2 linked regions of the Homo sapiens genome follow. Each later gene encodes a partner of the first gene's protein in a complex. Each region holds a gene or a part of one and is shown in the gene's direction. Other genes may lie near its edges.

Evidence for each region. Proteins that work in one complex are often made in the same cells at the same time.
Region 2: the proteins of UBL5 (region 1) and SART1 are in contact, whole or in part, in a crystal structure (PDB 4PYU), measured with the Homo sapiens proteins. Residues at the interface, in NP_001041706.1 of Homo sapiens: Met1 (codon at 5,450), Glu3 (codon at 5,456), Arg15 (codon at 5,492), Lys17 (codon at 5,498), Cys18 (codon at 5,501), Asn19 (codon at 5,504), Asp21 (codon at 5,708), Asp22 (codon at 5,711), Asp26 (codon at 5,723), Lys29 (codon at 5,732), Leu30 (codon at 5,735), Ala33 (codon at 5,744), Gln34 (codon at 5,747); in NP_005137.1 of Homo sapiens: Ser117, Leu118, Ser119, Ile120, Thr123, Leu126, Arg127, Leu130, Leu132, Lys133, Leu135.

The regions. Positions count from the first base shown.
Region 1 is NC_000019.10:9,822,889-9,831,279, forward strand, and holds UBL5 (ubiquitin-like protein 5), read left to right. Parts: upstream 1-5,029; 5' UTR 5,030-5,096; exon of another isoform or gene 5,097-5,176; intron 5,177-5,438; 5' UTR 5,439-5,449; coding exon 5,450-5,505; intron 5,506-5,703; coding exon 5,704-5,787; intron 5,788-5,948; coding exon 5,949-5,986; intron 5,987-7,076; coding exon 7,077-7,120; 3' UTR 7,121-7,227; downstream 7,228-8,391. UniProt on the Homo sapiens protein: Ubiquitin-like protein that plays a role in cell proliferation and sister chromatid cohesion by associating with spliceosomal proteins. Participates thereby in pre-mRNA splicing by maintaining spliceosome integrity.
Region 2 is NC_000011.10:65,964,190-65,971,733, forward strand, and holds part of SART1 (U4/U6.U5 tri-snRNP-associated protein 1), read left to right. Parts: intron 1-325; coding exon 326-381; intron 382-902; coding exon 903-1,029; intron 1,030-1,152; coding exon 1,153-1,258; intron 1,259-1,512; coding exon 1,513-1,590; intron 1,591-1,697; coding exon 1,698-1,797; intron 1,798-1,886; coding exon 1,887-2,029; intron 2,030-2,160; coding exon 2,161-2,367; intron 2,368-3,069; coding exon 3,070-3,194; intron 3,195-3,281; coding exon 3,282-3,397; intron 3,398-3,489; coding exon 3,490-3,632; intron 3,633-7,544. UniProt on the Homo sapiens protein: Plays a role in mRNA splicing as a component of the U4/U6-U5 tri-snRNP, one of the building blocks of the spliceosome. May also bind to DNA.

The DNA.
Region 1 (8,391 bases):
TTTGAATCAAGCACTGAGAAATTAGAACATTTTGAAAAAGCAAACATTTCCTTTTCCACCCCCGGTGATTACAAAAGTAACATATGTTCTGTGTCAGAAATCTGGAAAAACACCACGAAGAGGGAAAATGAGGCCGGGTGTGGTCGCTCATGCCTGTAATTCCAGCACTTTGGGAGGATCACTTGAGGCCAGGAGTTTGAGACCAGCCAGGGCAACATAGTGAGACTGTCTCTCCAAAAATTAAAAAAATCAGCCAGGCGTGGTGGTGCACGCCTGAAGTCCCAGGAGGTGAGTCCCCTTGAGTCCAGGAATTGGAGGCTGCAGTGAGCTATAATTGTGCCACTGCACTCCAGCCTGGGTGACAGAGCAAGACACTGTCTCAAAAAAAAATTAAAAAATTAAAAAATTAAAAAAAAAAAAGAAGGGAGAATGAGACTCTCAGTAATCCTACCATGAAGTGGTAACTACAGTCAATGCTTGTGTGACCCTGCATTTCTTTGTTTTCAAACAGTCTCACTCTGTTGCCCAGGCTGGAGTGCAGTGGCATATCTCAGCTCACTGTGACCTCTGCCTCCTGGGTTCAAGCGATTCTCCTGCCTCAGCCTCCTGCGTAGCTAGGATTACAGACGCCTGCCACATTTTTGTATTTTTAGTAGAGATGGGGTTTCCCCAATTGGCCAGGCTGGTCTCGAACTCCTGACCTCAAGTGATCCACCCACCTTGGCCTCCCAAAGTGTTGGGATTATAGGTGTGAGCCACCGTGCCTGGCTGTGACCCAGGATTTCTAAGAGAATGCAAAGATGTGCTGCTTCTAAACTTCCTTAGGCACCTCAGCCCCCTCAGCTCACTTTTGACCTTCCAATCTGTTTCATCCCGGCTAGAGTCTCCCCAAAAGCAGAGGCAGGGGAATTCCCACAAAGGAATGCCCTAAATCATCCCAAGATGGGGCCAGTGGGGATTTCAAGAAAACACCAATTACCAGAGCAATCAGTCCAAAGCATTTATTAGGGAAACTTACAGAGTGCTCCAACAATCATCAAGACAGGAACGAAAAGGGGTGTTCTACCGAGGCACAGCTGCAGCTAGGGGGTCAGGACATGGAGTTCAGATGCACAAGTCAGCATGTCTGGTTTCCATTACTATTTTGAGTAATGGGCCACCTGCTGGTCTGGCAGGTGTCAGCTTGACCAAAACAGGATTGTGGATTCTTTCCCTGGGATGGGACGTTCCACAACCTTGGTTTTATATTTAGATTTTCTTTTTTTTGTTTGGTTTCTTTTGGAGACGGAGTCTCACTATGTCTCCCAGGCTGGAGTGTAGTGGCGTGACCTCGGCTCACTGCAGCCTCTGCCCCCCTGGGTTCAAGAGAAGAATTCTCCTGCCTCAGCCTCCCAAGTAGCTGAGACTACAGGCGCAGGCCACCACGCCCGGCTAATTTTTTGTATTTTAGTAGAGACGGGGTTTCAGCGTGTTGCCCAGGCTGGTCTCCAACTCCTGAACTCACACAATCCGCCTGCCTTGGCCTCCCAAAGTGCCAGGATTACAGGTGTGAGCCACCACACCTGGCCTATATTTAGATTTTCAAGGCCAGTTTCTGGAATTTTTAAGCAAAGTACACGGGATAAACATTATGAGACCTTAGCACAGAAAAACAGAAGAGAGGTTGGGTGTGGTTGCTTACACTTGTAATCCCAGCACTTTGGGAGGCCGAGGCAGGCGGATCACCTGAGGTCGGGAGATCAAGACCAGCCTGACCAACATGGAGAAACCCCGTCTCTACCAAAAATACAAAATTAGCTAGGCATGGTGGTGCATGCCTGTAATCCTGGGAGTTTCTCTCTTGTTGCCCAGGCTGGAGTGCAATGGCACCATCTCGACTCACCGCAACCTCCGCCTCCCTGGTTCATGCGATTCTCCTGCCTCAGCCTCCCAAGTGGCTGGGATTACAGGCATGCGCCACCATGCCAGGCTAATTTTGTATTTTTACAAAATTAAAGAGATGGGGTTTCTCCATGTTGGTCAGGCAGGTCTTGAACTCCTGGCCTTAGGTGATCTGCCCACTTTGGCCTCCCAAACTGCTGGGATTACAGGTTTGAGCCACTGCACCTGGCCTTGGAGAATTCTTAAACCACTGTAGCAGTATAGTTCAACGATAGTAAAAGGGGGTTTTAGTCTCTGGATCCTGCCATTCAAAAGCAAATAGGCCGGTTGCGGTGCCTCACGCCTGTAATCCCAGCACTTTGGGAGGTCGAGGTGGGCAGATCACTTGAGGTCAGCAGTTCGAGACCAGCCTGGACAACATGGTGAAATCCTGTCTCTACTAAAAATACAAAAATTAGCTGGGCGTGATGGCATGTGCCTGTAATCCCAGCTACTAAGGAGGCTGAGGCAGGAGAATCGCTTGAACACGGGAGGTTGTGGTGAGCTGAGTTTGTTCCACTGCACTCCAGCCTGGGCAACAGAGCGAGACTCTGCCTCAAAAAAAAAAAAAAAAAAAATTGAGATAGCCTCACTCTGTGTTGCCCAGGATGGAGGGATGGAGTGCAGTGGCGCGATCTCAGCTCACTGCAACCTCCGCCTCCCGTGTTCAAGCGATTCTCCTGCCTCAGCCTCCAGGTAGCTGGGATTACAGGTGCCTGCCACCACACCTGGCTAATTTTTTTTTTTTTTTTTTAATAGAGACGGGGTTTCACCATGTTGGCCAGGCTGGTCTCGAACTCCTGACCTTGTGATCTGCCCACCTCAGCCTCCCAAAGCGCTGGGATTACAGGTGTGAGCCACTGTGCCTAGCCTCAAAAAAAATTTTTTTTTAAAGGCCAGATATCTCCACAGGTAGCTTACTTTATGTTATGGAAAGTGCCAATTTACTGAGCACCAAATGAATACATAATGGAGTATTCTTCATGTAGATTAAATAATGTGACCATACTCTCCCTCTTTCCCCTCCAGCCCACTTTTCCCTTTAAATAATGAAGCCCTCAAAATCATATTTGGAAAAAAGCACGGATCACAGATTGTTCCTGGGGTTTTGTGTTCCTTTTCTCCCAGGCTTGTCCTTAACCTTGTCTACATAAACCTGTCAATTTATTGAGACCTGTCTCAGATACTTTTTGGTTTACAAATTGTTTGACTGAATTGAGGAAGGACGGTCCTTGTCCCACCAGCCCTCACAAACCTGGAATCTGGTACAAAGTGCTCCCCAAAGATACAGCTGCAGGAGATTGTGCAAATGTGCAATGTTTCCAGTTACCTCGCAGGCATTTAAGGTTGGTGACTGGCAGTGAGAAAGGAGAATAGGGAAAATGAGGCAGAAGAATAGCAAAGGGAATTAAAAGTTGGATAAAGGGTAAAATACGTAAAAGCAGAGAGCAGAAGCAAGGTGAAAGGGCACCCGCCCCTTCTTGCTCACCCAGCAAGAAGCAAGATAAATGGCAGAAGCTGAGGAGACAAAACAAAAGGAAGATTAAAAACTGAGTAAAGGCCGGGCACAGTGGCTCACACCCAACACTTTGGGAGGCTGAGGCAGGCGGATCACGAGGTCAGGAGATCGAGACCATCCTGGCTAACACAGTGAAACCCCGTCTCTACTAAAAATACAAAAAAATTAGCCGAGGGTGGTGGGGGGCGCCTGTAGTCCCTGTTACTCGGGAGGCGGCTGAGGCAGGACAACGGCGTGAACCCGGGAGGCGGAGCTTGCCGTGAGCCCAGATCACGCCACTGCACTCCAGCCTGGGCGACAGAGCGAGACTCCATAAATAAATAAATAAATAAATAAATAAAATTAAAAAAAAAACAGTAAAAATCCCACGGCCGGGGAAATCAGGACCAAACCAGTAAGGAGCAGCTCTTTAGGCATAAGCACGCGCATTAAAGACAAAAAGTATCCTTAACATGATAAGGATAACCAGCTCATTAGCGCTCATGCATATGGACGGCATATCATGAATGGAGGCGGCTCTCAAGCACACAGGGGCCAAAGTAAGCAACACACCTATCATTCAAAAAGGTAGACACTGGCTAGATATTAGGCAGCCTTGGGAAGAGAAAAAAAGCCTGGCCAATAAGGTGAAACCCCATCTCTACTAAAAGTACAAAAATTAGCCGGGCGTGGTGGCGGGCGCCTGTAATCCCAGCTACTTACTCGGGAGGCTGAGGCAGGAGAATCGCTTGAACCCGGAAGGCGGAGGTTGCGGTGAGCCGGCACCGCGCCATTGCACTCCAGCCTGTGCAACAGAGCGAGACTACGTCTCAGAAAAAAAAAAAAAAAAAGACCCAAACTATACCAAGCTGGGGCTGATCTTATCTCGCAGAGGTCAGTCCGCTCTCCCCACTCCGAGAGTGGAATACTGTGCTTAATAAACTTGCAGCTTTGCCATCTCTGTGTGTCTGGTCCAAATCTTTCTTCAGGACACCAAGAGCCTGGAACTGTCCGGCACCATGCGGTAACAGCAGCTGTTGGGCAGCGTAGAGTCTACTCTAGGATCAAGCTTCGCCTACTGACTGGAGTCCGTATCCCGGGGGAACGCGATGGCCAGAGGGAAGAGGTGAGCCAAATGCTCACCAAGCCCAGCCCTGAATGAACCCAGGGGGTCAGAAGGGATGACTGCAGAACTCGTCCCCCACCCCCACCCTCCGCCCTTGCTCCTAGTTGCCGCTGCAAGAGGCTTCGGGCTCAGGATCAGGAGCTTACCCCTACTCCCGGGACCCTCTGGCGTCCCCACCATGTGACCGAGTCTCCCTGCAACAAACAATGACTTCAAACGAGCTGGGCGCCGGCGCCTGACCTCTGACTCTCGCTCCACGCCCCTTCCCTGGCCACAAACCCGCCGAGGCCCCCCTCTCTACCCGGCGCGCCTACCACAGGCGCGACACCTGTCAAGCCTTGGGACACCGAAACCGTACCTGGGAACAGCAAACACACCACAGACTGCAGACCCGGAAGAACTTGTCCCAGTGTTGACCACACCCCCTGGCTAGGGGCAGGGCTTCCGGCCTCGAACTTTAACTTCCGCTTCCGGTTCCTAGCGTTAACTGCGACCGGGGTTCAGCGCTCGGGTGAGGAGCTGGTGGCGTCGGCAGGTTCGAGGCGATTCGAGGTGAGGGGGTCAAGCGGAGAGGCTCGGAGTCGGAGAAAGCTGTCGCGACCCAGCCACCCAGGGTCTGGGGTCGGTGGGAGGTGAGGCCAGGGAGTTTTGTGGCAGGGCTTTCAGGCGGCGAGAAGGGGCGGAGGCGCGGCTCCCCGGGGTTCGCGGCCCTGGGACAGGGGACTTGGGGCCTGGGAGTATTCGAGTCCGGGGGGTTGGGGGCAGAACGGAAGGCTCAGTAACCTGGAATTTTAGGGCCTGGGACTGGGAGACTTGTAGGCTGGGGCTTCTGGGCCTGGGAGACGCCTGAAGCTCTGACTTTGCTGCCTCCCACCCACCCCCCGCTTTGTGTAGCTCCAGCTAGGATGATCGAGGTTGTTTGCAACGACCGTCTGGGGAAGAAGGTCCGCGTTAAATGCAAGTATCCACTGGCAGCCGAGAGGCAGTGGTACCCGCAGGGGTGCTTGGCGTGAGGCAGGCAACTCAATCTGTGTTGTCGGATGGTTTTAGTTAAACCCGGGAGAGGGGGCGGATGGGGTCCTGGCAGATGGTATTCTGCCCTAGAATGTCCTCTTCCTCGTTCTACCGCTTCCATTTGCCTTAACTGCTCTGCGCCCAGCACGGATGATACCATCGGGGACCTTAAGAAGCTGATTGCAGCCCAAACTGGTACCCGTTGGAACAAGATTGTCCTGAAGAAGTGGTGAGTGCAGCGGTAGAGCCACTGGGTGGACTGGACTAGGCCGGAAGGTTTTGGTTGGGGGAGCGCTGCAGGCAGCCCTTTGCTTAGGCTTGGCTACCTCATTTGGCCTACAGACTGAAGAGCCTCCTTAGCCTTATCTCTGAAATGTCTCTTTTTCTTAGGTACACGATTTTTAAGGACCACGTGTCTCTGGGGGACTGTATCCTTTGTGTGACTTTTTGAGGAAGCATCTACATACCCAGCCTCGGTTATCTGTTCAAAACTAAAGTCTGCATGAGCTTATGCATATTAAGTGTTTAACTTAATACGTGGCACATGGTGAGCACTTAGAAAATGGGAGCTAGGTAATTATTTGGTTGGGGAGGAGAGTGGTTGGTGAAATAGTTTGACTTCAAGTTCAAAATATTTATTACTGACCTCCACCTGAGTGCTGGACAGTAGGTCAGGGTGGGGTGAGACTCAGGCATATCTATTGTGCAAAAGGAGCAGAAACTTTTTACAATTTTTATTTTATTTATTTATTTTTTTGAGACAGTCTGGCTCTGTCGCCCAGGCTGGAGTGCAGTGGCACGATCTTGACCCACTGCAACCTCCACCTCCCGGGTTCAAGCAATTCTGCCTCAGCTTCCCAAGTAGCTGGGATTACAGGTGTGTGCCACCACTCCCTGCTAGTTTTTGTATTTTTAGTAGAGATGAGGTTCCACCATGTATGCCAGGCTAGTCTCAAACTCCTGGCCTCAAGTGATCCTCCCGCCTCGGCCTCCCAAAGTGCTGGGATTATAGCCGTGAGCCACTGTGCCTGGCCTAGAAGGAACAGAAACTTTTTTTTTTTTTTTTGAGATGGAGTTTTGCTCTTGTTGCCCAGGCTGGAGTGCAGTGGTACAATCTTGGCTCACTGCAGCCTCTACCTCCCAGGTTTAAGCGATTTTCCTGTCTCAGCCTTCCAAGTAGCTGGGATTACAGGTGCCCACCACCACACCCAGCTAACTTTTTGTATTTTTAGTAGAGACAGGGTTTCATCGTGTTGGCCAGGCTGGTCTCAAACTCCTGACGTCAAGTGAGCCACCTGCTTCGTCCTCTCAAAGTGCTGGGATTACAGGTGTGAGCCACTGCACCCAGCCAGAAATTCTTTTGTAAAGTTTTGGTTCTCTCCAAATAAAAATGGCCTGGTCCAAAATGGGCTTCCTTAGCCCTGGGCTGAGACCTCAGGCCACCTGACCCGGCTGTGAATGGATGAGAGGGGTGGGGACGGAAGTCAGAGTCAGGATTCCTTAACACCTTTCCTTCAGATGAAATCCACGATGGGATGAACCTGGAGCTTTATTATCAATAGATGAGAATCCTCATCTTCCTGCCCCGCTTTCCTCTCCCATCCTCATCCCCCACACTGGGATAGATGCTTGTTTGTAAAAACTCACCTTAATAAAGACTTAGATGTTGCTTTGTTGTTGTCTCTGTATGACAGCTGTCTAGTGATGGGTGGATCAGTCGCTGTTTGGTCATCACTGCACCATCAGCATGCAGCTGCTAAAATAAGAGCTCTGATCAACTGGATCCATGAGGGCAGAGTAGACCAGCAGGCTGGGAGTCTGTGTGGGAGCCCAGAGAGAGCTCTGGGGTTTGCTGTGGGTGTCTGAAGGTCAAGAGACTCTGGGATTATTGTCACCCTAATAAACCAAAGAACCTCCGGCTAATGACAGTAGATGTAATTGTTAGGAATTCAGATTCTGAAATCACACAGACCATGTGTGGAATGTCAGCTCTGCCACCAAGCAGCTGAGTGACACTAGGCAAAATTTTTTAACCTCTGTAAGCCTTTACTTCCTTATCCACTGGAAATAATTGCGTTTACTTCATGTCTGCTTTCAATCGGCATATTGTGAGGAGGTATAAATGAGTTTAAAGCATGTTTAAACATCCACAGTTCCTGGCATTTTTTTTTTTTCTTTTTTTGAGACAGGATCTTGCTCTGTCACCCAGGCTGGAATGCAGTGGTATGTTCATAGCCCACTGCAGCCCTGAACTGGACTCAACACAGTCCTCCTGCATCAGCCTCCCAAGTAGCTGGGCAGTGTGTACCACCACGCCAGCTAATTTTAAAATTATTATTATTATTTATTTTATTTGAGACAGAGTCTCGCTCTGTCACCCAGGCTGGAGTGCAGTGGCACGATCTCAGCTCACTGCAACCTCTGCCTCCTGGGTTCAAGCAATTCTCCTGCCTCACCTGAGGCAGGAGACTGGGACTACAGGCGTGCCCCATGACACCAGTTAATTTTTGTATTTTTAGTAGAGATGGGGTTTCACCATGTTGGCCAGGCTGGTCTCAAACTGCTGACCTCAAGTGGTCCACCCTCCTCGGCCTCCCAAAGTGCTGGGATTACAGGCGTGAGCCACCGCGTCTGGCATTTTGAAATTTTTTGTACAGACAGGGTCTCCCCTATGTTGCCCAAAATAGTCTTGAACTCCTGACCTCAGGTGATCCTCCAGCCTTGGCCTCCCAAAGTACTGAGATTATAGGCACAAGCCATCATGCCTGGCCCTAGCACTTCTTTTCAAGACAAAACGTGATAGTAGACAGTGAGGCAGTGTGGCACTATAAGT
Region 2 (7,544 bases), on another chromosome or scaffold:
AGCACGGGGGAGGCTTTCTCACATGAAAGTGTGCTAATCAGAGTTGGAAAGATTGTTTAAATCATCTTAGCCAACAGTTGACTTATAGAAGAGAAAACTAAAACCTAAGAGTAAAGTGGCATTCACTGGTTAGACGCAGACCAGGCTGGTGCCCATGTTTCCTGCTTTGGAGGCCAGGGCCCTTCCCAGTGTCCTAGGCTGCCTGGGGCAGACTTTGTGTTTGGGACCACTCACTCCCACCCTGTTTCTCCTCTTGTCTGTCTGGAAATGCACATGGCACCCTGTGTCTTTAATAGCCCCTAACACTTGTATCTCTTGTTGTCAGCAAACTCCGGGCAAAGTTGGGGCTGAAACCCTTGGAGGTTAATGCCATCAAGAAGGGTGAGTATGGGGCTGAGGATAGGGTTTGGGGGAAAGAGGCCATCTGAAGGGGTCTTTGAAGAAGGTGGGGTTAGAGGGCAGGTTCAGCACTGTTTAGTGGTCTTACACATGCATATTTGCCGGAAGGCATGAGGTCCCTCCTTGCTGGTATAATGGGGATCTGGGGCTCCGCCTGCTCTCTGAGTTGGAGCTGTGGCCGTCGCATACTCACTCTGGCTGTGAGTTGTTAGATGGACTGGAAGATGTGCACACTTGCTGCAGACTGCGCTGTGCGGGGGTGGGTTTCTTGTTTTTCTTTAAAGCACGATTTGAGGGGCTTTGGAAGCCACAGAGGGTCCTGTTGTGCTGCATGGGTTGGCCAGGAGTGTGGGGACGAAGTGGGAGCAGGGAGGTGAAGGATTGTTCCTTCCTGTCCTGACCCCTTCTGGCCCCCTGAGCTGGAAGGGGGCAGGGTGAGTGGCTCCCTCCTCTCCCCACCAGCCATGGGCGGGCATAGCCTCACGTCTGGGCCCCCCTTCCAGAGGCGGGCACCAAGGAGGAGCCCGTGACAGCTGATGTCATCAACCCTATGGCCTTGCGACAGCGAGAGGAGCTGCGGGAGAAGCTGGCGGCTGCCAAGGAGAAGCGCCTGCTGAACCAAAAGCTGGGGTGAGGGGTCCTGGCCAGGGCAGGCAAGGGAAGGGCTGGGGAGGCCACCATCCTTGGCTGCCTCTTGAGTGGGGTGGGGAGCAGGAGCTGGGCTCCTTGAGCATCACTTTTTCCCCTCTTCAGGAAGATAAAGACCCTAGGAGAGGATGACCCCTGGCTGGACGACACTGCAGCCTGGATCGAGAGGAGCCGGCAGCTGCAGAAGGAGAAGGACCTGGCAGAGAAGAGGGTGAGCACCTGGGCAGCATGGGGTGGTCGCCTAGTGCTTCTGGTGGCCTGACGGCACTGAGGCGGGGGCCAACCCCAGAGAGGTGAGACGGGGCTTGGAGAAGGGAAGGGCCGTGGTCGGTAGCATCTACTTTGGATTCTCAGCAGCTTTCCTGCAAGGCCTGCCCTTTTTGCACTCCGCTTGGTAGAGCCCTGAGTGTTTTCTGGTGATGCTGAGTGGCCTGAAGTCCTAGGTCACCCCTCCCTGTCCCGTAGGCCAAGTTACTGGAGGAGATGGACCAAGAGTTTGGTGTCAGCACTCTGGTGGAGGAGGAGTTCGGGCAGAGGCGGCAGGTGAGGCTGCAGCAGGGGTGGTACAGGGGACACTGGTGGCCTTGCTACCGGAATCCCGAGGTTGGGTGCGTGGAGGGAGGTTCCTGACTCGCCGATTCTTCCCTTAGGACCTGTACAGTGCCCGGGACCTGCAGGGCCTCACCGTGGAGCATGCCATTGATTCCTTCCGAGAAGGGGAGACAATGATTCTTACCCTCAAGGACAAAGGTAATGCGAGCTGGGTGCCCTGGGTGGGGGCACAGCCTCTGCTGAGTTGCGGACAAGTGTGAATGGCCACTGCTCTGTGCTGCCCCCAGGCGTGCTGCAGGAGGAGGAGGACGTGCTGGTGAACGTGAACCTGGTGGATAAGGAGCGGGCAGAGAAAAATGTGGAGCTGCGGAAGAAGAAGCCTGACTACCTGCCCTATGCCGAGGACGAGAGCGTGGACGACCTGGCGCAGGCACGGCCTGGGCAGGCTGGGTGGCGGGGGCTGAGGTGGAGAATGTCGGGAATGGGGGCTCTGAGGAGGTGGTGGCTCAGTGGCTTTTCAGGAGCCAGCCTGGGTCCCAACCTGTACCTCTTGCCTTGCAGCAAAAACCTCGCTCTATCCTGTCCAAGTATGACGAAGAGCTTGAAGGGGAGCGGCCACATTCCTTCCGCTTGGAGCAGGGCGGCACGGCTGATGGCCTGCGGGAGCGGGAGCTGGAGGAGATCCGGGCCAAGCTGCGGCTGCAGGCTCAGTCCCTGAGCACAGTGGGGCCCCGGCTGGCCTCCGAATACCTCACGCCTGAGGAGATGGTGAGCCCTCCCGTGCCTTATACTCGGGGTCAAGATTCTCCCTCCCTCTGGGGCTCCTGCCCTGCCCGCAGGCACTGAGAAGACAGGGCGAGTATTTGTGTTCACAAAGCGCTTGGCCTCGCGGGTGAGCACTAAATGGCAACCGGGGGAGGCACCAGGTGTGGATGGGTCAGGGCTGCTGAGCCAGATGGGCCCCAGTCTGTTTCGGCTCTGCCATGCTGCCAGCTCGTGCCTTGGATAAACCATTTAACTGTGAGCCTGGGGCACCCCATCTGGAATGGCAGTGACAGGAGCCGCCTCCTGAGGTTGCTGTGAGGATGAGTGACAGCGTGGGTGAGGGGTGACTGGAGAGGTGTGCGTGGATTCTGTCCACAGGGTGACTGTGTGAACGTGAGGTAGACAGCTGGCGCGGTAGGCGTCTTCCTCAGTGGGTAAGAGCAGGACTCTGGAGCCAGACTGCCCAGCTCTCCCACCTAGGAGCTGGGCAACCTTGGGGAAGGTACTTAACCTCCCTGTGCCCCAGTTTCCCTAGCTCACCAGTGGAATTGAGATAGTAACCACCCCACATGTTGCTCATGTGTGGGAAGCGCTCAGGACGCTGGCTAGCACAGAGGAACACCAAAGAAGTGTTCACCCTCGAGGGCTTGTGGCGACCTGCCTTTCTGTGGCCCCCGCTCCATGTCTCGCCCCTCTTCCCTTAAGGTGACCTTTAAAAAGACCAAGCGGAGGGTGAAGAAAATCCGCAAGAAGGAGAAGGAGGTAGTAGTGCGGGCAGATGACTTGCTGCCTCTCGGGGACCAGACTCAGGATGGGGACTTTGGTTCCAGGTGGGCTTGGACACGGTGGTGGGGCGAGATGGCTGGGCTGGGGTGGCCTGGGGACCGGTGCTCACCAGAGAGGCCTCCTTCCCTCAGACTGCGGGGACGGGGTCGCCGCCGAGTGTCCGAAGTGGAGGAGGAGAAGGAGCCTGTGCCTCAGCCCCTGCCGTCGGACGACACCCGAGTGGAGAACATGGACATCAGTGATGAGGGTGAGGGCCCGGCCAGGGGGTGGGAGGGGCAGGGACAGGAGCCGCGGGTTGGAGGAGATGGTCTGAGCAGGCATCCCCTGTGTTTCCCCCAGAGGAAGGTGGAGCTCCACCGCCGGGGTCCCCGCAGGTGCTGGAGGAGGACGAGGCGGAGCTGGAGCTGCAGAAGCAGCTGGAGAAGGGACGCCGGCTGCGACAGTTACAGCAGCTACAGCAGCTGCGAGACAGTGGCGAGAAGGTGAGGCTGGGCATGGGCAGGGTGACTGCGTCAGCAGTCACCTGTCCTCACGAGCACCTGTGTCATAGGCGACAGCCACATTCCTGTCTGAAGCCTCTTTTCCATTTGTTTTTTGTTTTCTGGGTTTGTTTTTTTTTTTTTTTTTTGAGACAGAGTTTCGCTCTTTCGCCCAGGCTGGAATGCAGTGGCGCAGCCTCAGCTCACTGCAACCTCCGCCTCCCAGGCTCAAGTGATTCTTATTCCTCAGCCTCCTGAGTAGCTGGGATTACAGGCGCACGCCACCAGACCCGGCTAATTTTTATATTTTTAGTAGAGACGGGGTTTCACTATGTTGGCCAGGCTGGTCTCCAACTCCTGACCTCATGATCTGCCTGCCTCTGCCTCCGAAAATGCTAAAATTACAGGTGTGTGCCACCGTGCCCAGCCCTCTATTCTGTTTAAAGTCATGTTTTGCAAAAATTTTTAGATGCCTGCTTTAGTAGGGGATCCTTTCCTTGCCTCTCTCTTCTGTGCATGTTTGTTGAATGCCTGCTGTGAGTAGTGCATTGTTCTTGGGCTGAGAAGGTCATTGGTGAACAGGATAGCCATGGGGCCCTGGGCTCATGGAGCTGGCTTTCTAGAGTGTGTGGGGGAGAGCGTGGGGAGCAGCAGTGACTGTTAATGCAGGAACGGTAATTTCTGATGGTGGTGGGAGCTGGGCACTCAGTAAACCAAGATAACGTGCCGGGGGTTGGGATCTTAGATGGGAGAGTGCAGGGAAGACCTTTCCAAGGTACTAGTTCATCTGAGACTTGAGTCACACAGAGGAGCCAGCCTTGCGGGGGGTTAGGGGTGGCAGCAGGTGGACAGGCTGGCATTTAGGCAGTAGACCAACCAGCAGGTGTCTCAGGAGAAGTGACCTTAGAGTGCCTGAGGGCCAGGGAGGCTGGAGCAGAGCAGAGAGTGAGGGGTGGCGTGAGCTGAGATGGAGAGGTAGGGGGCCAACGCAGGGGGAGCCTTGACCCCATGGTCGTCGCTGCCCCAGAGGCACAGTGGGCCGGGCACTGCTCACATGTTCTGTGTTTGTTGATTCATTCCATCCTCCCAGCAACACCCTATGAGGAAGGTTCTGTCATCTCCATCATTCCAGAGGCCACACTTTTAGCCCTACCCCACACTTCTCACCTAGGAAGAAGCCAAGAAAGCGTGTCCAGGAGAGGGAGCAAGGGAGGGAAGCTTCTGATACTACTGGGAGGCAAAGTGGGGACAGTTGCAGTGGATTCAGGACCCGGAGGACAGGGGAGTTGAAAAAGTGAGGGCTGAACCCGGGACGGAGGCCAGGCTTACTGTTGAAGGGCTGGAGAGGACGTATTTGAGGTTTAAGGGCATATGGTCTCTGTTAGGCACCTTGAATGCTGTGCTGTTATAGGGAAAACAGCCAAGACAGTCTGTAAGTGAGTGGGCGTGGCTGGGTTCCAGTAATACTTTATTTCTAAGAACAGGTGTTGGGACATAGTTTGCCCGGCTAAAAAGGAACAGAGAAATGGAGCAATAGGCTGACAGGGCTGTTTTATGACTGAAATGAACATAAGGGTTTCTAGCCCCGTGGATCTCAGCCTGCCTGCACATTAGACTCACCTAGGAGGTTGTTTTTGTTGTTGTTTTAAGAAACAAGGTCTCGCTCGGTTGCCCAGGCTGGAGTGCAGTAGTGCAATCATAGTTCACTGCAGCCTTGAACTCCTGGGCTCAAGGGATCCTCCTGCCTCAGGCTCTCAAGTAGCTGAGACTACAGGCGTGCGCCTGTGGGTCTCAGTGTGTTGCCCGGGCTGGTCTCAAATTCCTGAGCTCAAACGATCCTCTCGCCTCCACCTCCCAAAGTGCTGGGGTTACAGGCATGAGCCACCAGGCCTGGTGTAGCCTAGAAAGTTTTTGTTGTTGTTTGAGACGGAGTCTCGCTCTGTCACCAGGCTGGAGTGCAGTGGCGCGATCTCGGCTCACTGCAACCTCCATGTCCCGGGCTCAAGCAATTCTCCTGCCTCAGCCTCCTGAGTAGCTGGAACTACAGGTGCATGCCACCACGCCCAGCTGATTTTTGTATTTTTTAGAAGAAACAGGGTTTCACCGTGTTGGTCAGGCTGGTCTCAAACTCCTCACCTTGTGATCCACCCTCCTCAGCCTCCCAAAGTGCTGGAATTAGAGGCATGAACCACCACACCCGGCCACCTAGAAGGTTTTTTAAACATATGAGCCACACCCCACACACTGTGCAGGCAAAAAAGTGGAAAGCCTATCACAGTGAACACCTTTGTCCTCTAGAGTCAGTAATTATAAACATTGTTACAGTTCTTTTCTTTCTCTTCTTTTTTTCCTGACCACTGGGAGTTGCAGATATCATGACACTGCATCCTTAACGACTTCAGTAGGCATCTGGCGAAATCAGGGCCTTCTCCCGCATAGCCACACTGCCCTAACAAGCCCATAAATGCTGTAAAACAGCAGCTCGCATGCCAACATTTTCCAGTTATCCCCCAAAATGTCTTTTTAGTTTTTTGTTGTAAGCAGCATCCAATCAAGTTTCCCACCCGCAAAGGAGCCTTTTCTGACTACCGGAGATTCTAGAGTATGTGGGAGACACATTTATGACGGAAGAAGAAAAAGATCTCGGCAGGCGGTGCTGGGGCCTAGAGTGCAAGTGGAGGGTGGGCTTGAGTGAAGCCAGCTCGTGTCATCATTTATTTCAGGAGGGAAGGTGGGGAGGGCACAGCAGCTGTGGGTGACCTTGTTTAGGGGAAGTCAAGGCAGCCCATGGCCGATTGTTCTGGTGTTTTTCCAGTGAAGAGGTGGCAGAGGTGGTGGTGCAAAGAGATGGGAGATGCTGTTCTGGAGAGTGGAGAGCAGATACACCCTGGGAGAAGAGCAGGCCTGCCAGTGGCAGTGTGGATGGTGGGATTCATGAGCTGAGGAGGGGGATGGTGGAATTCATGAGCTGCTGAGGGAGGGGGATGGTGGGATTCATGAGCTGAGGAGGGGGATGGTGGGATTCATGAGCTGAGGAGGGGGATGGTGGGATTCATGAGCTGCTGAGGAGGGGGATGGTGGGATTCAGGAGCTGAGGAGGGGGATGGTGGGATTCATGAGCTGAGGAGGGGGATGGTGGGATTCATGAGCTGAGGAGGGGGATGGTGGGATTCATGAGCTGCTGAGGAGGGGGATGGTGGGATTCATGAGGTGCTGAGGAGGGGGGTGGTGGGATTCAGGAGCTGAGGAGGGGGATGGTGGGATTCATGAGCTGAGGAGGGGGATGGTGGGATTCATGAGCTGCTGAGGAGGGGGATGGGATTCATGAGCTGCTGAGGAGGGGGATGGTGGGATTCAGAAGCTGAGGAGGGGGATGGTGGGATTCATGAGCTGCTGAGGAGGGGGATGGTGGGATTCATGAGCTGAGGAGGGGGATGGTGGGATTCATGAGCTGAGGAGGGGGATGGTGGGATTCATGAGCTGCTGAGGAGGGGGATGGTGGGATTCAGGAGCTGCTGAGGAGGGGGATGGTGGGATTCATGAGCTGAGGAGGGGGATGGTGGGATTCATGAGCTGCTGAGGAGGGGGATGGTGGGATTCATGAGCTGCTGAGGAGGGGGATGGTGGGATTCATGAGCTGCTGAGGAGGGGGATGGTGGGATTCATGAGCTGAGGAGGGGGATGGTGGGATTCATGAGCTGAGGAGGGGGATGGTGGGATTCATGAGCTGAGGAGGGGGATGGTGGGATTCATGAGCTGCTGAAGAGGGGGATGGTGGGATTCAGGAGCTGCTGAGGAGGGGGATGGTGGGATTCAGGAGCTGAGGAGGGGGATGGTGGGATTAATGCCCTGAAGCAGTGGATGGTGGGATTGAGGATTGGGTTTTCTAGGGAGGAGGGACAAGGCAGTTAAGGG